2 separate regions of the Homo sapiens genome follow, and region 2 is linked to region 1. Evidence: fine-mapped expression QTL. A gene starts in region 1. The other region holds a variant in brackets. All regions are shown on one strand. Distances are between the middles of the regions.

What was found. PIP is the estimated chance that this variant, and not a neighbour inherited with it, causes the effect.
Region 2: its variant is the best candidate, but not a certain one, in a credible set for the expression of REEP6 in cerebral cortex (GTEx, PIP 0.55).

What each region holds. Positions count from the first base shown.
Region 1 is chr19:1,483,720-1,496,105 of GRCh38, forward strand. It overlaps REEP6 (receptor accessory protein 6), which reads left to right and starts at 7,462. Exons shown (of 5, transcript NM_138393.4): 1 at 7,462-7,665; 2 at 11,575-11,668; 3 at 11,750-11,888. The coding sequence starts at 7,551. PCSK4 (proprotein convertase subtilisin/kexin type 4) reads right to left here and starts at 6,631. Exons shown (of 15, transcript NM_017573.5): 1 at 6,439-6,631; 2 at 6,074-6,178; 3 at 4,469-4,561; 4 at 4,245-4,373; 5 at 4,066-4,142; 6 at 3,884-3,972; 7 at 3,422-3,594; 8 at 3,134-3,346; 9 at 308-408; 10 at 119-222; 11 at 1-48. The coding sequence starts at 6,627. RefSeq lists silencers at 6,371-6,800, 7,021-7,560, 7,591-7,710.
Region 2 is chr19:1,442,297-1,452,716 of GRCh38, forward strand. It overlaps APC2 (APC regulator of Wnt signaling pathway 2), which reads left to right and starts at 7,825. Exons shown (of 15, transcript NM_005883.3): 1 at 7,825-8,042. RefSeq lists silencers at 2,935-3,324, 3,375-3,474, 3,935-3,984, 4,634-4,928, 7,672-7,871 and enhancers at 9,714-10,347, 10,348-10,420. The variant GAA/G (reference allele first, on the strand shown) is at 6,929.

The DNA of each region.
Region 1 (12,386 bases):
CCACCAGCAGCCCGGCGTCCAGCAGCCCGTATCCGTAGTGATGGCTCACTGCGCGGAAGGGCAGCAGTCACTCGCCCCGTGGGCCCCGGGTCCCCGCCCCCGCCCGGCCCCGCCGCACCTTGGCGCCCCACGCCGTTGGTCCTCCAGTCCTCGGCCTGCAGGTGCGCCGGCTTGGACGCGCGGACCACCAGGTGCTGCATGTCTCTCCACGTCAGGAACGGGCTGCGGGGGGCGGGGGCGGGGGCGGGTGAGCCGCCGGGCCGCGCCTGGGGGCGAGGGCGGTGGACCGGGCCCCGCAGTCACCTACTTGGCCTCCAGCGCTAGGGCGATCATGCCGGCCGCCAGTGGGGCTGAGGCCGAGGTGCCCGTGTGCTGGTCTGTGCACCCGTGATGCAGGTCCGTGGTGACCTGAGGGCAGAGGGGGGTGGGACTCGGGGGGCCGTGCACAGTGAGAATACAGCCCTTCTTCAAAAAGTACCAAGGACTGGGCGGGCGCAGTGGCTCAGGCCTGTCATCCCAGCACTTTGGGAGGCTGAGGCGGGCGTGTTGTCTGAGGTCAGGAGTTCAAGACCAGCCTGGTCAACATAGTGAAACCCCAACTCTACAAAAATACAAAAATTAGCCAGGCATGGTGGCGGGCACCTGTAGTTCCAGCTACTCGGGAGGCTGACACAGGAGAATCACTTGAACCCGACAGGCAGAGGTTGCAGTGAGCGGAGATCACACCCACGCCACTGCACTCCAGCCTGGGCAACAGAGCCAGACTCTGGATTAAAAAAAAAAAAGTACTAACGACTGAATTCAAAAAGTACCAAGGGCTGGGTGCGGTGGCTCACACCTGTAATCCCAGCACTTTGGGAGGCCGAGGTGGGTGGATCACCGGAGGTCAGGAGTTCGAGACCAGCCTGGTCAACACCTTGTCTCTACTAAAAATACAAAAAAATTACCCGGGTATGGTGGCGGGGCACCTGTAATCCCAGCTACTTGGGAGGCTGAGGCAAGACAATCACTTGAACCTAGGAGGCAGAGGTTGCAGTGAGCCAAGATCACACCGTTGCACTCCAGCCTGGGCAACATGGCAAGACTCCATCTCAAAAAAATAAAAAAATAGTACCAAGAACTGAAGTCAAAAAGTACCAAGGACTGGCCACACAGTGGCTCACGCCTGTAGTCCCAACACTTTGGGAGGCTGAGGCGGGCAGATTGTTTGAGCTCAGGAGTTTGAGACCAGCTTGTGGCAACATGGTGAAACCCCGTCTCTACAGGAAAAATACAAGAATTAGCTGGGTGTGGTAGTGTGCACCTGTAATCCCAGCTACTCAGGAGGCTGAGGCAGGAGGATCGCTTGAGCCTGGGAGGTAGAGGTTGCAGTGAGCTAAGATTGCACCACTGCACTCCAACCTGGGTGACAGAGTGAGACTCTGTCTCAAAAAAATTTAAAAAAAAAGGTACCAAGGACTCCAAGGACTGAGTTCAAGAAGTAACAAGGACTATGCTCAAAAAGAACTAAGAGCCTGGCCAACATGGTGAAACCCCGTCTCTACTGAAAATACAAAAAAATTAGCCGGGCATGGTGGCGTGGCCTGCTATTCCCGGCACTTTGGGAGGCCGAGGCTGGTGGATCGCTTGACCTGAGGAGTTGGAGACCAGCCTGGCCAACATGGTGAAATGCCATCTCTACAAAATATACAAAAGAAATTAGCAGGACATGGTGGCATGCTTGTGGTCTCAGCTGCTCAAGAGGCTGAGGCACAAGAATCGCTTGAGCCCGGCAGGCGTAGGTTGCAGTGAGCTGAGATCATGCCACTTCACTCTGTTGCACCCAGCCTGGGTGACAGAGCGAGACTCCATCTCAAAAGAAAAAAGAAAGTGCTGGGCACTGTGGCTCACACCTGTAATCCCAGCACTTTGGGAGGCCGAGGTGGGCGGATCACGAGGTCAGGAGATCGAGATCATCCTGGCTAACATGGTGAAACCCTGTCTCTACTGAAAATACAAAAAATTAGCCGGGCATGGTGGCGGGCACCTGTAGTCCCAGCTACTCAGGAGGCTGAGGAAGGAGAATGGTGTGAACCCGGGAGGCGGAGCTTGCAGTGAGCTGAGATCGCGCCACTGCACTCCAGCCTGGACGACAGAGCCAGACTCCATCTTCAAAAACAAACAAATGAAAAGAAACCCTGGGCTGAAGTGATTCTCCCACTTTGGCCTCCCAAAGTGAGCTGTTGCGCCCGGCTGGATTTGTTTTTGTTTTGTTTTGTTTTGTTTTGTTTTGAGACAGGGTCTCGCTCTGTGGCCTAAACTGGAGTGCAGTGGTGCAATCTTGGCTCACTGCAACCTCCATCTCTGGGGTTCAAGCGATTCTCCTGCCTCAGCCTCCTGAGTAGCTGGGATTACAGGCGCCCGCCACCATGCCTGGCTAATTTTTTTTTGTATTTTTAGTAGAGATGGGGTTTTGCCATGTTGGCTAGGCTGGTCCTGAACTCTTGACCTCAGGTGATCCACCCACCTTGGTCTCCCAAAGTGCTGGGATTACAGGCGCGAGCCACTGTGCTTGGCCTGGATTTGGGTTATTGATTGATTGATTGATTGATTTTTGAGACGGAGTCTCACTCTGTCGCCCAGGCTGGAGTGCAGTGGCCCGATCTCGGCTCACTGCAAACCCTGCCTCCCGGGTTCATGCCATTCTCCTGCCTCAGCCTCCCGAGTAGCTGGGACTACAGGCGCCCACCACCACGCCCGGCTAATTTTTTGTATTTTTAGTAGAGACGGGGTTTCACTCTGTTAGCCAGGATGGTCTCGATCTCCCGACCTCGTGATCCACCCGCCTCGGCCTCCCAAAGTGCTGGGATTACAGGCGTCAGCCACCGTGCCTGGCCTTTTTTTTTTGTAGTTTTAGTAGAGACAGGGTTTCACCATGTTAGCCAGGATGGTCTTGATCTCCTGACCTTGTGATCTGCCTGCCTTAGCCTCCCAAAGTGCTGGGATTACAGGTGTGAGCCACCGTGCTCGGCCTGGATTTGCATTTTCAAAGCAGCTTTGGGAGGGTGCTAAGTCACAGTGGTGGGGACAGGAGGAGGCCAGGCTGGGATGGCAGGGCCTGGGGAGGGGACCCTGTTGGGGCGGCTGCACTCACGATCTGGGGGTCGGTGGCCACGCCGCTGCTGTAGGTGGTGGTGAGGGTGGAGGCGCAGGCTTCGCTGTACCAGGGCACGCGGCCCTGCTGGGTGGTGCTGCCCACGGAAAGCGTGTGGATGCTGTTGGTGTAGCCGTCGCAGTTGCAGTTGTCGTAGTGCAGGCCGCCGTTGCCCGAGGCCCAGATGAAGAGCGTGCCCAGCCCGCCGCGGCCCTGGGAAACCAGGAGGGGCGGGGAGGGGGCGTCGGCCTGGCCTGCCACCCCTGCCCTCCTCGGGCTGCCACTCACCTTGGTCACACCACGCCGGAAGGCCTCGCGGGTGAGGATGCCGGGGCCGTCCACCGTGCGGCCGTCGTCCTCGGGACCCCAGCTGGCGCTGTAAATGTGGATGTGCTGCGGCTGCAGGCTCAGCGACTGGGCCTCGATGACATCGGTGATGGTACCGTCCAGCATCCGTACGCCTGCAGAGCCAGGGCGGGAGGGCCGCTGCCACCGGCCCTGCCCTTCCCCACACCCCAGCCCGCCCCGCGCCACTCCACACCACTCCCCAGCCCTACCTGGGCCCTCTCTCTGCTCCCTGGAGTGGGACCATTCGTATTGGCTCAGCACCCCCCAAGCCCTGGAGTCTGGGGCCCTAGCACCACCCAGCAGTGAGAGGGTGGGCTCCCGAGTCCTTGGGCCCAGCTCCCCGCCAGAGTCACCCCCTTCCCTCTCTGTCCCGGAATGGTGCCGCTGGGGGACCCCGGGTACCTCCGATTCGGGCGTTGAAAGCGACCCCCACACCACAGAAGCCATTGTTGGCCATCGCGGCCACCTCCCCAGCACAGCGGGTCCCGTGCCTGGTGCCAGGGCCAAGAGGGGCTCCTGTCACGGCCTCCATCCCCCTGCCGGGTACTGGGGCTTCCCCCGTGTGCTGTGGGAGCCCTGCTCACCGGTTCTCTTTGCTGGGGGTGTAGCGGGGCTGGGGGTCCGGGTCGTAGTCATTGAAGTCATAGCTGGCCAGGGGGTCCTGGGGGCAGGTGGGGATATGAGGGGGCCGGGAGGCGTCCCTAGGGTGGTGCCAGCCTCGGCACCTGGGGCAGCCCTCGCCCACAGCCACCCGCGGTCTCACGTAGTTGGCCCAGAGGTCCGGGTGGTCCTTCTCGATGCCATCGTCCAGCACAGAGACCACGATGCCCTGGCCTGACAGCCCCTGACTCCAGGCCTGCAGGATGCTCAGGTCTGGTTGGGCCTCGCTGTTCTGCAGGGGGAGGCGGGGTTGTGACCCTGTGAGGGCCTGGAGTTGAGGGCGCCAGCGGCCCCGTCCCCGTCTACCCACCCTGGCTGCCTGCTCACCATGTACCACTGCTTGGAGAACCAGGGGTCCGTGGGCACCACGACAGAGCGTTTCACCCGCCGCTGCAGCGTCTGCTGCTGGAACCACTGCACCTGCAGAGCAGAGGGTGCATCAGGCCTGTCCCCTGCTCGCCCCTGGGGCCCCTCGTGGTTCAGGGAGTGAGGCAGCCCCGTGCCCTGGGACCCTGTGTTTGTGGGGGTTGCTCTCCAGGGTCCCCATGTGCCTGGGGCTCTGTCTGCAGTCGGAAGGGGTCGAGGCTTTTGGACCACCTGTCCTTGGGCCCACAGACGCGTCGTTGCTGCCGCGGGTGACTGCAGGTCCCCGGGTCCCCACCCCACTCTCTCCCCCATCCCTGTTCTAGATCCTTCTATCTCTCTCCTGCATCACTTCCTTATTTTTTTTCTTTTTTTGAGACAGAGTCTTGTTCTGTCGCCCAGGCTGGGGTGCAGTGGCGCAATCTTGGCTCACTGCAACCTCTGCCTCCTGGGTTCAAGCGATTCTCCTACCTCAGCCTCCCAAGTAGCTGGGACTACAGGCGCACACCACCATGCCCGGCTAATTTTTGTACATTTAGTAGAGATGGGGTTTCGCCATGTTGATCAGGCTGGTCTCGAACTCCTGAGCTTAAGTGATCTGCCTGCCTTGGCCTCCCGAAGTGCCGGGATTACAGGCATGAACCACCACGCCAGGCCTGGCTTCTCTCTTGCAAACCACATCAGGAACTGGCCACTGCTCTCCCTCCCGGTGCTGTAAGCAGGCAGCTGTCCAGTCCTGTTCAAGGCACTTCCTGGCCTCCGAGGGCTTCCCAGGCTCCATCCCAACCCCTCAGCTTGACATCCCAGGCATTTTCTAGACAGGGCCCAGCCCGATGGGACCCAGGCCCCTTTCTGAGCGCCTGGACACTGCGTCCTGAGGGCCACTGGGTGACTGTAAGCCTCCTACTTTTTTTTTTTTTTTTTTTGAGACGGAGTCTCGCTCTGTCGCCCAGGCTGGAGTGCAATGGCGCGATCTCGGCTCACTGCAAGCTCCGCCTCCCGGGTTCACACCATTCTCCTGCCTAAGCCTCCTGAATAGCTGGGACTACAGGCGCCTGCCACCATGCCCGGCTAATTTTTTTGTATTTTCAGTAGAGACAGGGTTTCACCGTGTTCGCTAGGATCTCGTCTCGATTTCCTGACCTTGTGATCCGACCGCCTCCGCCTCCCAAAGTGCTGGGATTACAGGCGTGAGCCACCGCGCCGGGCCAAGCCTCCTACTCTTTGGAACCCATTACGGTGTCGTAAAATCCCCTTCCCTCCATCCCATGACCTAGACGGTGGGGAAGTCACGCCGTCTGTCCCTCCTTACCAGAGCCCCTGGGGCCCAGAGGAGGGAGGGGGAGGACAAGAGGTGCCCACTGTGTACCAGGCCCTGGCAGGCGCCATGATTTCCGTATCTGGGTCTTCCTGCCTCCTCTTGCTGTATAGACTTGGGGCCCGGGCGGGTCTGAGCCACAGAAAGCACACAGCTGTTCATAACAACCACGAGAACCACAGAAGATGGCTGGTGGCCCCAGGAGGCAGCTGAGACCCCGGGCAGGGGGTTGGCCTCCAGGCCAGGCTCACCTTGGGGTTTTTCTTCAGGTGCAGGCGGTGGCCCCAGTGCGGGGTCAGGGACTGCTGGACCACGCCCCGGTGCCGCAGGTGAAAGTACTGCCCGTCAGGGAAGATCTGGGGATGTGGGGAAGCGGCCGCACCGATGGGACCCGGCTCCCCTGCTGAAGCCCCCGAGGGCCGGTAACAGCCCCCTTCTTTGTCCTTCCCCAGCAGGTGCTCTCTGGGAGTCCCAGAAGCTGAGCTTGGCTGAGGCAGGGGTGGGCTGGGACTCTTGATATTTAGAAGACCTTGTGGGCTCCCTCCCCCTTGTCGGGGTCTAGGGTTGTTCAGTCCCCTCCAAGCCCCCACTTCCCGTCTATCCCGGTCCCACCCACCGGCCCCAGGTTGACGAAGCCGAATTTGCGTGCCAGGCGCTCGACCTCCCGGTTACCCTGGGACACCTGGACGGCCCAGCTGCTGACATAGATGGGGGCTCGGACCGGGGCCCACCCCACAGCCCGGGGGCGGACAAGGGCCAGGGCCAAGACCAGGCGCAGCCACAGCGCAATCGGGGCGGGCCGCATGGAGGCGGGGCGGGAGCGGGGCCTGCGCAAATCCCCTCCCTCCCGCCAAACCGCCGAGTGGGCCCAGGCGTCCGACCCGCCCCCGGCGCCATAGCAACGCAGAAGGCTTCGACTCCCAGGGGGCCTTGCGGCTACTCAGCCAGGAGGGGCGCGAAGATCTAACAGAAGCGGGAGAGGGACGCACGCCTGCCCGTCTTCCGCAGACCCACACCCTCGGGAGCCTCAGTTTTCCCATTTGTACAACGACAAGACTAACCCAGAGAAGCGGGTTCACTGTTGCGATAACGCGTCCTACCCTTTGTTTGACCTCTCCCACTTTCCAACACACCCCTCCTTCGAGAATCAGCCCGGCCTCCTGTCCGGCCTAATCAGAATCATTCTTTTGCGTAATCCCGCCTCCTCCGATAAGCCTCGCCCCGTTCCCGCCCCTACCATTCCGCCCTGCCTCCTTTGTGATCAGCCCCGCCCTCCACTGGTCTCGCCAATGAATCGCGTCCCGTTTCTCCAATCGGCTCGGATGTTTCTTTAGCCCCTCCCCCCGGTTCCGCCCCCCCACGCCTCTCCTCGCCCTGGCTCCACCCTTCAGCCAATAATCCCATCCTCTGACACCGCCCTTCCAATCAGCTACGTCTCGCTCCGGCCCGGCCAATCGGTGCCCTGGGCCGCCGCGCCCCGCCCTCTCCCGGCGGGGTCTGGGCAGCGGCGGCCGTGGCGGAGGGCTATGCGGCGGGGGAGACGGGGCAGGCCCCTCCTCCTTTGTCCGCCCTGCCCTCCCATTGGTCCTAGCGGGGGGCCGGGGGCGGACACCGGCGCGGGGCCGGAGCATCGCGGCTCAGGCTGCGGGAAAGCGGTGCGCGTGCAGCGGGGTGGGTGCCCTGGTCCGCGGGCGAGCTCGAGCAGCCAACCCCGGGCGCGTCGGGGCCATGGACGGCCTGAGGCAGCGCGTGGAGCACTTCCTGGAGCAAAGGAACCTGGTCACCGAAGTGCTGGGGGCGCTGGAGGCCAAGACCGGGGTGGAGAAGCGGTATCTGGCTGCAGGTGAGCCGTCGGCGCTAGCCCGTTTCGCCGACGGGCACACCGAGGCCATGGGCCTGGGGGTCGCAGACCGGACTCCTTCCCCGGCTACGGGGTCCGGTCCGGCCGGTGGAGCGCGCGAGGTGACTGGGACCTCGAGGTCCGCCCGCAGCCCTTCCCTTGCCCGCGCCCTGCGACCCTGCTCCCGGGCCACCCCTCTCTAGCTTCCGCCCCTGGCCGCCCCCCGACGCCTCCTTCCGGGCGCTGGGTGCCTGCCATGCCGAAGTCCGGTTCTTCCAGTTGCCCAGTGGCCCCAGAGGGGTCGGGATGCCAGTGTCCTGCGCGTTTCGCCGTCCCCCTTCCCCCGTGGACCCCGGCCTGGCTGCAACAGTAGAGATCTTCCCGTTTTTCTGAGGGGAGGCTCCTGGCGGGAAGGGGAACGGACCGTCCTGGGGGCCTGCCCAGGACCCTTCTCCTTTCCTCCTCCTCTCCTGCCCTAGCTCACCTTCCCCCAGCTCAATGGCTTAGTGCCACCGAGCGTAAATGTTTGTTAAGACGGAGTTGGGTTGTCTGACGGCTGTGATGTGGGGAGGCTGGACTGGGGCCCACAGAGCCGGAGATCCAGGCACCCCGATTGTGACTCCATTACAGTTCTTCCGTGACTTTCACCCTTGGTGACGCTGCGCGCCCCTTCCCCTTTCCAAATCTCTAGCAAGAGCATGTAGTAAACGCTCCTTAAATGCCTCCCTCCCCACCTTTAAAACTTTTTTTTGAGACCGAGTCTTGCTCTGCTGCCCAGGCTGGAGTGCAGTGGTGTGATCTTGGCTCACTGCAACCTCCACCTCCTGGGTTCAAGCGATTCTCCTGCCTCAGTCTACCAAGTAGCTGGGATTACAGGTACCCACCACCATGCCCGGCTAACTTTTGTATTTTTAGCCGTTCAACATGGTGAAACGGGGTTTCACCATGTTGGCCAGGCTGGTCTTGAACTCCTGGCCTCAGGTGATCTGCCCACCTCGGCCTCCCAAACTGCTGGGATTACAGGCATGAGCCACCTTGCCTGGCCTAAAACTTTTTAAAATTAACTTTTTTAAGAGACAGGGTCTCACTATGTTACCCAGACTAGTCTTAAACTTCTGGGCTCAAGCGATCCTCCTGCCTCAGCCTCCCAAAGCTCTGGGATTACAGGTGGAAGCCACTGCACCCAGCCTTTCTTCCGTTTGTGTGGTGCTCCCAGCCCCACTGGCTCTGCCTTCTCTTCCAGGAAGCTCCGCAGAATGACTCACAAGGACTTGCTCTGGGCCTGGGGTATTCTGGGTAGAGGACAGTGCCACTTTTTTGAGCACCTTCTGCAGGTGGATCCCAGGAGTCCAGTTCCCCCCCAATTTTCCCACCATCTGGGGGTTCCCATGCCAGGCAGCGCCAGAACAGTCTGAAGTCTGTGCCCACACCCTGGAGGTCCCCAGGTGCCTGGTCCCATGTGCAGCGCAGCAGGTGGCATGGGCATGGCCCGGCTGTGCCTGCCCCCGGGAGCAGGTCCCTGACCTCTGCCCTCCCTTTCCACATCCCTGGGGCTAGTGGGCAGGAATTTAGGTCGTAGAGCGCCCAGGAGGCAGGCAGCAGGGAGGGGCTGCCTGGGGCACCGTGTCACCAGAGACGAAACTGAGGCACAGGGAGGCAGGGGCTGCCTCTGTGCCTGTTCTGTCTGAAGCATACAGTCCTCCACCCTGCCCACCCCCAGTCCCATCTGCTGCTAATCTTGGGGGCTGGGCCTCCCTCCACAGTTCTGATGTCCAAGGTCATCCTCCCGTCGCTGAAGCTGCAGGAAAAGGGATTTAGGGGAGGGACGCCCTGGGAGAGTCATTCCTCCCCACGAGCCAGGCCCGGGGAGAGATGGCAGTCCCTCATCCCCATCTCCCACCTCCTTTAAATTGACAAATCCCACACCCCTGGGTAACATACGAAGAAACTCAGAGGGGACAGTGACTGGGAGGCCACTCCTGGGACCAGCTGGGGGACTCCTCCTACCCCTGACCTTGGGTGCTTTTGGATAAAGACTAAAGCAGGTGGGAGGGGCTGGGGGGACTTGGGCCTCTGCCCTTTGGTCCAGAAGTGGCCTCTATCTCACTCTGCAGATAGCAGCCCCAGGGGAGGAGGAAGAAGGCTGTCCAAGCTCTCTGGAGCACATAGGTTCCCTGTGTGACCTTGGGCAACACCCACCCACCCCCAGTTTTGGCTGTTGAATAATTCAGGAAAAGCACAAAACCTGGCACACAATAGGCGCTTAATAAATGCAGCTGTCGTAGTCATTCTTTTCAGAGCCAGGTTCAGGATTGGGGCTGAGCTGGACACACACACACACACACACACACGTTTTTCTCTGAACACCCTCCTTGCTGGGACTGTGTTATAGTTGCCTGAAGGCACTTAATAAATGTGCAGAAAGGCTGATGGCGGTGGCTCACGCCTGTAATCCCAGCAGTTTGGGAGGCCAAGGCGGGCGGATCACCTGAGGTCAGGAGTTTGAGACCAGCCTGGCCAACATGGTGAAACCCCGTCTCTACTAAAAATACAAAAATCAGCTGGGCATGGTGGTACGCTCAGCTACTCAGGAGGTTGAGGCAGGAGAATCACTTGAGCCTGGGAGGCGAGCTTGTAGTGACCTGAGATTGCGCCACTGCACTCCAGCCTGGGTGACAGAGCAAGACTCCATCTCGAAAATAAATAGAAATAAACGTGCAGAAAGGCGTTCTCTCTGTTAACTTGTAACCATAGGAGGCAGGGGCCATTACTACTCCCACTTACCAAGGGGGAAACTGAGGCTCCATGCAGCCACAGCCTCACTCAGTGCCGGCTGGTGAGTGCACACCCGACCAAAGGGCTCTCCTCCACCCAGGGGATCGAGATGCTGGGGTTTGCTGCCTCCAAGACAGGAGGTTCTCAAAGGGGGTAGCCCTGCCCCCCACCCCGCCCCAGGGGACACTGGGTGATGTCTGGAGATACCTGTAGTCGTCATGACTTGGGGGCTGATGGCATGGAGTGGGCAGAGGCCAGGGACACTGCTCAGCACCCTGCAGTGTCCAGGACAGCCACTTCCCCCTCTCCACCGAAAACAACCAAGAATGACCCGGCCCTGAACATCAGCAGTGCCAAGGCAGAGAAACCCTGCGCTAAGATAACAGATGAAACAGTTGCCTTTCTCAGCTCTAGAATCAAGTCTTCATGACAGCCTGGCCTCCCTTGCAGGTTTCTGCCATCCCTTATATTGAAACACTGGCCTGTTTTCCCAGTGCCTCCCAAAGGGCCTGGAATGAGATGGCTATCGTTGCAGATTACACTTTTTTTTTTTTGAGACGGAGCCTCACCCAGGCTGGAGTGCAACGGCGCGATCTTGGCTCACTGCAAGCTCCGCCTCCTGGGTTTACGCCATTCTCCTGCCTCAGCCTCCCCAGCAGCTGGGACTACAGGCACACACCGCCATGCCTGGCTAATCTTTTGTATTTTTAGTAGAGATGGGGTTTCACCGTGTTAGCCAGGATGGTCTCCATCTCCTGACCTCGTGATCCACCTGCCTCGGCCTCCCAAAGTGCTGGGGTTACAGGTGTGAGCCACCGCGCCCGGCTGCAAACACTTCACTGGGCAGCTATTCCGCACCCACCCCCACTGCCCAGCGTCGAGCTCCTGCCTGCCCTTGGGGAGCTCTCAACCCCGGTGGGGGACATGGACACGTTGACCAGTTACAGGCACAAGGCTCAGGGCCTAGAGGCACGATGGGGGATGTACAGGCACATCAGGGGCAGTGGACATATCCTGGAGGCGGCTCCTGGGAGGAGGTGACGGTTGCAGTCTTCGTCGACTGAAAGGCGGCCTGGGTACCGTCGTGGGGGCTCAGCGGGTCCCCAGCCCTGGCACACCACCGCCTCTCTCCGGCAGGAGCCGTCACTCTGCTAAGCCTGTATCTGCTGTTCGGCTACGGAGCGTCTCTGCTGTGCAATCTCATCGGATTTGTGTACCCCGCATATGCCTCGTGAGTGCACGGCTGGCTGCCCACGCGGGGGGTTCTGGGGGCTCCCTGGCAGCCCCTGACCCTGCTGCACCCTCCCTGCAGAATCAAAGCTATCGAGAGCCCAAGCAAGGACGACGACACTGTGTGGCTCACCTACTGGGTGGTGTACGCCCTGTTTGGGCTGGCCGAGTTCTTCAGCGATCTACTCCTGTCCTGGTTCCCTTTCTACTACGTGGGCAAGGTGGGCCCTGCCAGGGCGGGCACAGCCGTGGAGCGCATGGGGCTTGGGGATTCCTGGGAGGCGCTGGGGCCAGAAAGTCCGGAGGATACCAGGAGATGGGGGATGTGAGGGGAAGACTCAGTCCCTTCCCTGGGGAAACGAGCCCTGTCCGGGGGCTGATGGTGGAGGGCCCACCCTGAAGGGTGTCTGATGGTGGAGACCCAAGCCTGCTCCAATAGGATGTCCGATGGTGGAGGGCTCACCCTACAGGATGTCTGATGGTGGAGGGCCCACCCTGAAGGGTGTCTGATGGTGGAGACCCAAGCCTGCTCAAATAGGATGTCTGATGGTGGAGGGCTCACTTAAAGGGTGTCTGATGGTGGAGACCCAGGCTTATTCCAATAATATGTCTGATGGCACAGGGCCCACCCCTAAAGTGTGTCTGACGGTGGAGACCCAGGCCTGTCCCAGTAGGACGTCTGATGGTGGAGGGCTCACTCTAGAGGGTATCTGATGGCG
Region 2 (10,420 bases), 42 kb before region 1:
GGGTAGTCAGAAGTGGGGGCAAGTCTTGGCTGGCAGCCCCTGAGATGTGTAGAATGTTTGAAAATTCGCCTGTGGGTTGACCTGAACCCACCGGGCTTGAAACCAACGGTCCAAAGTTTGGAGTGTGGTCTTAAGGAAGGAGACCACTACTACTCCTGCTGCCTTCCTCCCACCACCTTGCCTAGTTCACAAGACAGGAGGAGAGAAAATGCAAAAAGTTGGAAAAAAAATGCAAAAGTAAGATAAACAGACAACCTTGGCACCACCACCCGGCCCTAGGAGTTAAAAAAAAAGTAATAATAACATCAACCACTGACCTAAACTACTTGTGTTATCTGTAAATTCCAGACACTACGAAAAAGCATTGTAAAACTTTCTGTTGTGTTAGCTGATGCATGCAGCCCCCACTCACGTTTTCCACACTTGCTTGATGTATCACGACCCTTTCACGTGGACCCCTTAAAGTTGTAAGCCTTTAAAAAGGCCAAGAATCTCTTTTTCGGGGAGCTTAAGACGCGAGTCTGCTGATGCTGCCGGCCGAATAAAAACCTCTTCTTTAATCCAGTGTCAGGAGTTTTGTCTGTGGCTCATCCTGCTACAGTCTGGCTGCTAGGTGGCCGCCGGAGGTCTCTGGGCAGCACTGGCCAGGTTCACTTCAGCGTGAACAGCAGAAGCTTGTACGGGACCCAGCTTCGAAGGCCCACCCCAGGTCCAGCTCAAGGAGAGGGAGGGAAGGCATGTGTAGGCAGGGTTCATTGTAGTCTCGGTTGTCAGCATTCAGAATTCTTTTTATTTTTTGAGACAGAGTCTCGCTCTGTCGCCCAGGTTGGAGTTGAGTGGCACGATCTCGGCTCACTGCAGCCTCCACCTCCCAGGTTAAAGCAATTCTCCTGCCTCAGCCTCCCGAGTAGCTGGGATTACAGAAGCACGCCACCACGCCTGGTTAATTTTTGTATTTTTAGTCGAGACAGGATTTCACCATGTTGGCCAGGCTGGTCTCCAATTCCCAACCTCAGGTGATCCGCCTTCCTCGGCCTCTGAAAGTGCTGTGCTCCAGCCTGGGCGACGGAGACTCCGCCTCAAAAAAAAAAAAAAAAAAAAAAGAAATTGCTGAGGTGTTAGGTGCTTTTCGCCTCAGATAAGCAAAGTGGGAAATTAGTGGATGTCCCACTGAAACAGCTTTATCTGCAACATGGTTTTCAACCCTGAGCCTTAGAAATCAAAAGTGCCGGAAACCATGGTGCACACTTGAAGTCTTTACCGAGGCCCCGTCTAAAAAAAACAAATGGAGCCGGGCGCGGTGGCTCACGCCTGTAATCCCAGCACTTTGGGAGGCCGAGGCGGGCGGATCACGAGGCCAGGAGATCAAGACCATCCTGGCTAACATGGTGAAACCCCATCTCTACTAAAAACACACACAAAAAATCAGCTGGGCGTGGTGGCGGGCGCCTGTAGTCCCAGCTACTGGAGAGGCTGAGGCGGGAGAATGGCGTGAACCCGGGAGGCGGAGCTTGCAGTGAGCCGAGATCGCGCCACTGCACTCCAGCCTGGGGGACAGAGCGAGACTCCGTCTCAAAAAAAGAAAAAAATAAATAAATGGAAATGACAGAGCTTTTGAGCTACCAGGTCTATCTGCAGAGCAAATGACACAGAGATGTGTGGGGCCGCGCCCATCATGAGGCAGCTAGCTGGGAACAAGCCCCAGGGGGCCCTCCCTGAGGAAAGCATAATAGGAATGGGTGCTGGGCCTCACTTCGCTTTTGCAGAGCTTTACTGGCACCCAGCTGTGCCCATTCATACCTGTATTACTTCTGCCAGGCAGACGCTGAAAATTTACTGTCTGGACCTTTACGGGAAGTTTCCTGTCCATAAAAGCCCTCCCTGCACACGCCCCTGCTGGCTAGCACGTGGCTGCTAATGGGTACTTCCCTTGGTTTTCTGCAGTTGGAATCCAGCATGTGTGATCAGGGAAAATATGTATTAGTATTTAAAGCAAAAAGATACCCCCAGTTCAGAGAGACACATGTCTTGGTGGCCAGGTGGTGCCCTAGGTCCACAAGAATTTGGGGGGTGTCCAGGAGGTGGGGTGGGAGCCTCTAACTAGCACTAGGGTGCCACTGTCGAGGGCCACTCCCAACTCAAGGCCCAGGCTCTGTCTTTAGGCCTCTCTGGCCATATCCGCACTTCTTTTTTTTTTTTTTTTTTTTTTTTCTGAGACGGAGTCTAGCTCTGCCGCCCAGGCTGGAGTGCACTGGCAGAATCTCAGCTCATTGCAACCTCCGCCTCCTGGGTTCAAGCGATTCTGCTCAGCCTCCCGACTAGCTGAGACTACAGGCATGCGCCAAGACGCCGGTTAATTTTTTGTATTTTTAGTATAGACGGGGTTTTGCCATGTTGGCCAGGCTGGTCTCGAACTCCTGACCTCAAGTGATCCACCCGCTTCGGCCTCCCAAAATGCTGGGATTACAGGCGGGAGCCACCGTGCCCGGCCCCACGCTTCTGTTTCTACCCTCTGGTCCCACACCCCGCTCCAGAATCTGCATGGACTCTCCCAGACCTGCCCGGCCCCATCTGTGCCGTCTCAGACAGACAGCTCCGTCCTCATCAGGTTCAGGTCTGGCCCCGGCGCTTGCGGGTCAGCTGCCTTCAGGCCCTGTCCTGGTTCCCGGCGCTTCTCACATCCCCGCGGCCTCCCCCCTGGACGGCAGTTTACACTGAACTCGGCGCCCTCCCCTGACTTCTGAAGGAGGAGTCCTGGGTGGCCCCGAAGCCTCCCCGGCAGCCGCACGGCTCCGTCCCCGCTCCAGGGTTCAGCTGAGGCACCTGCTGGAGGCGGCCTGTCCCCGCCGCCCTGCTAAAGCGGCGCCCCTTTCTCCGGCCGCTCGTTCTTTGGTTTCCAGGGACTTTGCACAATTCATAACACCCCTCTTAGCCCCCATCCTGCCCGGGCCGCATCTTCCGCCCGATCATCCGGCCCTCGACCCGCGCAGCCGCCTCCGCCCTCCTCTCCCGGCACCGCCCACGGCCTGTTCTCCCCGCAGCCGCCAGCGGGCGCCCGCGAGCCTGGAGCCGGGCGCGGCCCTGCTCTGTCCACAGCCCGCGGTGGCTCCCACCTCCCGCTGGGCCTGCGCGACCTGCCCCCCGGGGCCTCCCAGCCCTCACTGCCCTCGCGGGCTGCACTCTCCCCCAACACTCCCCAGGGCTGTTCGGCCTCCCCAGCAGCTCCCCATGCCCTGCCCGCCGCGCTGGCGTCTCTCCCAGCCCGCTGCAGTCCCCTCGTTCACGTCAGCTTCCCAAGGGCCTGGATTTTGTTTTGTTCAGTGCAGGGGGACCCAGCACACAGTAGGTGCTTTATAAATGCTTGTTGCATGAATGTCCGCGTTCGGTGTCGCCCCCTTACGGCGGCCCCCCGCGCGCCCAGCTCGGCGCCCAGCAAGCCTTGTGCGCGCAGGTGATGTTTGCTGAATGACTAATGAACCTCAGCGCGCCAAGCCGGGCTGATTCGGGGGTGGTTCCGAGCTTCCGCAGGGTGACCGTCCGCGGGCAGCGGACCACAGCCGCATGGCGACGCCGCCTCTGGCCCCCCGCGACCCCCATTCCCCGTGGGACCTCTCGTGCCCCCACCCCCACCCGGCCTCCTCCCCGCCGCCTCGGGCCCCCCCAGCCTCCTCCGCATTCGAACTCCCCAGCGTGGTCGGACCCGGACCCTGGCGCCGCTCGGCCCACGCGAGTCCCCTCCCCTCTCTCCCATCCTTGGATCTCCCACCGCCCCTCCGCAGCCTCGGTCCCGCGAGACTCCCCAGCCCCCGCGAGCACCCCCAGACCCCACGGTACGCCCTCGCCCCTTTCGGGAGGAGCCCCGCCCCGGGCCCGCGGACTGACCCCTCCCGCCCCTCTCCGCGCAGGCGCAGGGCGGCCCCGTTCGCGTCCCGCACCCCCACCCTGGCCGCCGAGGGGCGGGGCGCGGCGGGTCCGGGGCGGCCGCGGCTCCATGGGGCTCCTGGGGCTCCTGAGCCTGCTGCACTCGGCCTTCTTCGGGGACCAGGTAGGGCGCGTGGGTCGAGCCGTTGGGGAGGGCTCCGGGCCGCGCAGGAACGGGGCGGGGTCCACACCGCGGGAACAGCGGGCGCGGCGGCGGGGGGCGCATGGGGCGAGCGCGCGGAGGCTGCAGAGTCGGGGGTCTAGTGCCGTCGCCGTAGAGACCGTTGCCGGGAAACCGCCTCGGAAGGCTGGCGGGGATGGAAGCCCCTCTCGTGCGCCGCTGCGACCCCCAGCCCCGGGTCTGCGCAAGCGCAGGGCTCGCCCAGCCCAGCCCTCGGCCTCTGCAGGAGACCCTCGGACCCCTCCTCACTGCGCCGACGCGGAGGCTGCGCCAGCTGGGGCGGCGGGGGCGGCTGCGGGGGCATCCTGCGGAGGCTCGGCCCTGCGCAGGGTGGGGGCCTGGGCCACGCCCTGCGCTTCTTTGGGCCTCAGTTTCCCCTTCTGGGCGCGAGCGTATGGCCTGCTTTGACGTTCGCCGCCGCTGCTGTTCGTATCCGTCCGCTCCCGACCCCAGCGCTTCTCCAGCCTCCGGAATCGTCTGAATTTCGCGGCTGTGACATCCCTCATTGGAGGGGAAACTGAGGCTGGGGGGTGCAGCGGGGAGCCCAAGGTCACGCTTCGAGGCCGGAGCCTCGTTGCGGAGCTAAGGCGCCCGCAAGAGAACGCGGGGCGGGGGCCGGGGAGCTGTCCGCGGTGCTGACGGAGGCGCACGTCTGCCGACTCGCCGCCGGGGAAACTGAGGCCCATAGCGGCGGTCAGGCTTCAGGGCGCGGCCTGGACCGGCCTACCCCACCCTCCCCCACCTCCGGTGGCCTCCTCACCGGTCAGGGCTCTGCCCGGCCACCCAGCCGGCGGCGGGCCGTCTCTATCCTCCCGCGATGACCTGGTGCCTTCTCTGTCCCCACCCAGCTCCCGATGGGGGCCGCCCCTGTTTCTGCCTCTAGCCCCTGGCACAGAGGAGGCATCAAGGGGGCGGGGACAGCTCGAGGTCAGACTCAGAAGGCTCAAAGACACTCCAAGAGTGAGCCGTGTGCCAGGCTGCGGACTTGCGGGGAGGTGTCACAGGACAGGGGTGGGGGAGTGAGCATTTCATGGAACTTCCCCTTTAGCCCAGCAGCAGTAGGGGGCGTGGAGGACCCCAGGGAGGAGCCTAGGTCGGGGTCTTGGGCTAGGCCCTGCGTTCTGCAGTGGGAGAAGGGGGAGACCTCTCTCAGTCTCCTGAAGTCCTAGGGGGCTGTGGGGGGTTCTTGAGGCTCTGAAATGTCTGGTGATGTCTGAGTGTGGCTGTGGTTCAAGGATTTACAGGGTCGAGGATTTTAGTGTGTGGGGGGGGATTGTTCAGGGACATAATGTTTTGTAGATTTGGGGCCAAGGGCATCTTGTCTTGGGGTCTCAGCCCCCATGTACCCTCAGCCCTCCAGGCCCTGGCCACCCCCAGAGGGATAAGAAGGGAGGTTCAGTGTCACTCCGGAGGCCTGGCTGGCACAGGTGAACTCAGGCAACACGTTCCCTGGCCCAGGCCTCAGTTTCCCCATGTATACAAGGACAGGACTGACCTTGGATCCCCCAAACCCCTGCCTGATGGGGGCCTGGGGAGCTGAGACATCTGAAACTACACAGGGAGGTGGGACTTAGTTCCTCTTTGGGGGAGGCAGGGATCATCCAACCCACCCTTCAGTAAACAAGACTGGAAACCGAGGCCAGAGAGAGACATGCCCAGGGGGACACAGGGACAACAAGGCTGAGCTGAAGCCAGGGCCCTGGGCTCTGCATCCCCAACCCCATTTCAGCCTCGCCCAGCTCTGCCCCGGCTTGACCTGTCAAACCCCACCACGCGCCCTACCCCATGGCTCCACCAGACACCCCCTGTGTCCCAAGCATGCATTGATCTTCCCTCAGCCTGGAACGCCTCTCCTCCTGATCACTGCTGTTCACTTCTCAGGGCAGCCTTCCAGCCTCCAGAAAAAAATCCCCTTCGAGGCGGGCGGATCATGAGGTCAGGAGTTTGAGACCAGCCCGACCAACACGGTGAAACCCCCTCTCTATTAAAAATACAAAAATTAGCTGGCAAGGTGGTACATGCCTGTAATCCCAGTTACTGAGGAGTCTGAGGCAGGAGAATCACTTGAACCCAGGAGGCGGAGGTTGCGGTGAGCCGAGATGGCGCCACTGCACTGCAGCCTGGGGGACAGAGCAAGACCCCATCTAAAAAAAAAAAAAAAAAAAGGCCGGGCGTGGTGGTTCACGCCTGTAATCCCAGCACTTTGGGAGGCCGAGGCGGGTGGATCACGAGGTCAGGAGATCGAGACCATCCTGGCTAACGTGAAATCCCGTCTCTACTAAAAAATACAAAAAATTAGCCTGGGCGTGGTGGCGGGCGCCTGTAGTCCCAGCTACTCGGGAGGCTGAGGCAGGAGAATGGCGTGAACCTGGGAGGCGGAGCTTGCAGTGAGCCGAGAACGTGCCACTGCACTCCAGCCTGGGCTACAGAGCAAGACTCCGTCTCAAAAAAAAAAAAAAGAAAAAAAAGAAAAAGAAAAAAGAAAAGATCCCCTGTGTCTGCCCACTGCATTGCCTCCCCAGACCCAACCAGTGGGGACAGCTGCGTCCAGCTCTGGGGGCTCCCAGACAGCCAGGCCGAAGGGCTCTCAGCCCCTGGCAGTGCTGGCCCGGGACAAGGCCCTCGGGTCTTCAGCTCAAGGCCCAACAGGAAACAGCACGGGTCCTCCCTTGCCTTTGTCTACGGGGCCTTGAATACTCGGACCTTCCCACCCTCTCCTATCATTCCCTGCACCAGCCCTTGCAGAATCTTCCGCCTCCTCTCCATTTTACAGAGGAGGAAACCGAGGGTTGAGCGGCGAATGATTTGCCCTGCCTGCCCAGCACG[GAA/G]AAAAATCACTCTTCTGGCCCCAGTCGCCTCCCTTTCTGTGCTGTGAGTCTGTGTCCAGAGCAGGAAGGGCTGCTCCGAGCTGCAGGGACGGGCTCTGTGTGTTAAACCTTCAAATGGCTTCCAGGGACTCATGGAGCATCCAGGACACCTGGAGATGGCGACTCCTGGGACCCCTGGCCCTTCCCTCCTCTGGCCTTCGGTCCGTGAGGGTGAATTAAGTGTGCCACCCACCAGGGGCAGAGACACATGGAGACAGAGATTGAGAGACAGAGAACAGAGGGGGAGACAGAAAGAGAGAGGGACATGAAGAGCAACGGAGTTACAGGAGGATCTGACGCTCCGTTGGGGAGACAGGGAGAAATGTGGGGAGATGCAGCGTCCCAGGTGCTCCCCAGTGGCCCTGCCCCTCCTCCCCTCTCCCCTCCCCACCAGGCAGGACCCTCAGGGAGCTCCAGCCTGGACCCGAACCCTGTCCCACCCTGACGCACCTGCACCAGGCCAGGCTGGACCTGTGGGGTGGGTGCAGGCCTGGCCCCAGCCCGGCCACTGCCCTGGAAACCCCTCCCCCGCCAAGATGCTGATGTAACATCCAGGATTTGATGTTTTACTCTCCAATTCTGCAAATCCAGACGCAGGAGGTTTTAAGAGGCCGTTGCACCCTGCAATAAAGTGCGGGACACAGGAATCTTGGTCCTCGGGGCACCCCCTTCCCTCGGGGGGGTTTCGCCCCCCGCACTCACGGCCCCTGAGCCCGCGCGGAGGCCCGACGCCCCGCGGCCGACGCCGGTCCCCGCCCCGGGCCGCCATTGGCTGTTGCCATGGCACCAGCCCGTCTTCCCGCGCCCTCATTGGCTGTCTCACCCGCATCCCTCATCCCGCATCCTCCCCCGCTCGCGGTGGTCTCGCCCAGCGCTAGGAGCGGCAGCGCCGCCTGCCCAGGCCCGGACCGGGCTTTGTCCGCCCCGGAGCCCCTGCCCGCGCCGCGGAGACCCCGGAGCCCGCGCGCTCCGAGGCCACCCCGGGCCGGGATTTCCGGTGGGGCCCGCGGAGCCGCGCAGAGGGAGGAGGCCCCAGACCCAGGCGCCCCGCCAGCCCAGCTGCACGTAAGCGGGTGTGTGTCCTCGGGGAGGAGGGCAGGGGCGCGACCTCCGCCTCGCGTCGAGGTTTCCATCCCTGGCTCTCAGCATTGCCCGTCAGCACAGACTCTGGACCCTCCATTTCCCCAGAGTGGGAGCTGGAGGGGAAACTGAGTCCCGGTGAGCTGGGCGTCAGCGTTTCTGCAGCCGGTCCTGCGCACACACCCACTCACGGGCTTCACCATCCGGACCTCCCTGAGGTGATCGGAGGAAGGGATGGGCAGGCCAGTGGTGTGTCTTCGGGGGTGTTGCTGCACCTCTCTGGGTGTCAGTTTCCCTCTCTGGAAAGAGGGGGTTTGGATTAAAGGAAGGAGAAAGGCCCCTTTGGGCCTGGCTTCCCATACCTGTGCCTCCCTCCCCTGAAATGCAGCCCGCTCAATAAGACCAGCCCCCAGTCATGGTGCCTTCAGGGAGTGATCGCTCAGGAAGGCCCCCAGGAGGCTACACGATGCAACCTGGGGGTGAAAGTAGGCAGAAGAGCTTCGTGGAAGAAGCTGCACTGTGTGGGATGGCAGGACTTAGAAAAGGTGCTCTAGGCAGGGCAACTGCACGTGCAAAGGCCTGAGAGAAGAGAGCCTCCAGCCTCTAAGTGAGTCGCGGTGTACATGGAGGAGTCGGAGCGTATCCTGAGGGCACTGGGGAGCCATGGAAGGTGTTTGAGCATGGGAGAAATGGGATCTCACTTGTGACGTTTAAAGCTCCCTCTGGCTGTGCATGGGGGACTGTGGGAGGCCAGGAAGAGGCTGATCAGAATGTCCTCACAGAGGGGTGTCAGGAGCTGGGGGAGGCATGATCCCGCTGGGCAGAGCTTGGAGGGACTAGCTTAGTCTGATGAGGATGCAGAAATGACCACCGAATGTGGGGAGAGGGAAGGTGTCTGAGGCTTGGCTTCGGTCAGCTGAGAAGAACCACGTGGGGGAGGCCTGGGTTTGGGGAGCAGGAGGCAGACATGTGTTGCTTTGCACGTCATCTGGTCCTTCCACCTGGCTGGGCATGGGATGGTGACCTCAGCTGGAACATGGGGCTCGAGCCAGACCCCAGGGTCTCCCTGCGTGTAGCCCCCAACCCCAAGCCTGATCCCCACTGGAGACCTGAACAGCCTTGGACATCATCGGATCAGGGTGGGAGGTGCCAGCCTCTGCCACCTGACTTCCAGTCCCTGTGCCCCTCCCACCCTGCCCTTGGGCACTCCTGCCCTGCAGGTTCCTCAGAGGGGCAACCCAAAGCCAGAGAGGGGCGGGTCTTGTCGGGCCTCCAGCCTGGACTTCCCAGCCCCTCTGGGGCAGCATCTGGGTGCCAGACCTCGGTTCCTAGGGCCTCGTTTCTCCCTCTGGGAACAGCCAAATGGTGGTCCCTGAGACTCAGGACAGACCAAGAAGGAGCCGGATGACATGGCAAGCCACACACTGCGTCCCCTGAGCAGGACGGGACAGCCCGACTCCATCCTCCCACCTGCGACTGAGCCCCCACCCCTACTCCTGTCCCAGCCGTGCCCCTGGTGACATTTGGGTGGGAGGGGAGGGGATGAGGGGGCACCTGGGGGTCAGAGAACAAATGACGGGTGAATACATGTGTGTGGCCAGGTGGAGGAGGGAGGGGAGGAGCAGGTGGGCTGGACAGGGCCGGTGTGAGGAAGGGGCTCAGGCTGGCAGGGGGAGGTGGCAGAGGGATGGGCTGCCATTGGTGCGTCTGAGACAAAGGCGGAGGGAGGAGGCGAGCGCTGATGGGAAAGGAACAAAGAGGGAAGGGGGGCGTGAAGGGGGGCTCCGGCGGGAGGGCCGAGCCGAGGGAGGAGGCGCCGGCCAGCTGGACAGAGGGAGGAGGCCAGGCCAGAGCCAGAAGACGGCCAGAGGCACAAAGAAGCCAGCGCGCTGGCAGAGTCAAGGGATGGGGCAGGGGCTGCCGGGGCCAGCAGGGACCAGCTGAAGGCTGCGCAGGGGGTGCGGGCCACACAGGTAGCCACCCTGAGCTCAGCCACCGATGGAGGGTCGTGGGGCTGCTGCGGTGATGGCGGTGGGCTTGGGTCCATCTGTCCTGCCGTTTCTGCACAGCTTAGGTGTCACCCACTGGCCTTCGTGGTGTTTTCATTGTCCATCGGCAGGGACAGCTGGTGGTCTGTCCGCCCCGCGTGTCTGGCTGTCAGCCTCTGGGCAGGCTTGCTTTTATGGGGGAGGGTCCTGTCTGTCTGTCTGTCGCCCTCTCTGGCTGTGAGCCTGGGGGTGCTGGGCTGGCCAGTCGGCTTGCTGGGTTAGGCTGTCCCAGCTGTCTGTGTGTTTGTCCGGCTGTCAGGATGTGTCCTGGGGGCTGGGAAGGAGAGGCCGACCCATCGTCTGTCGGTCGACTGGTCAGTTGG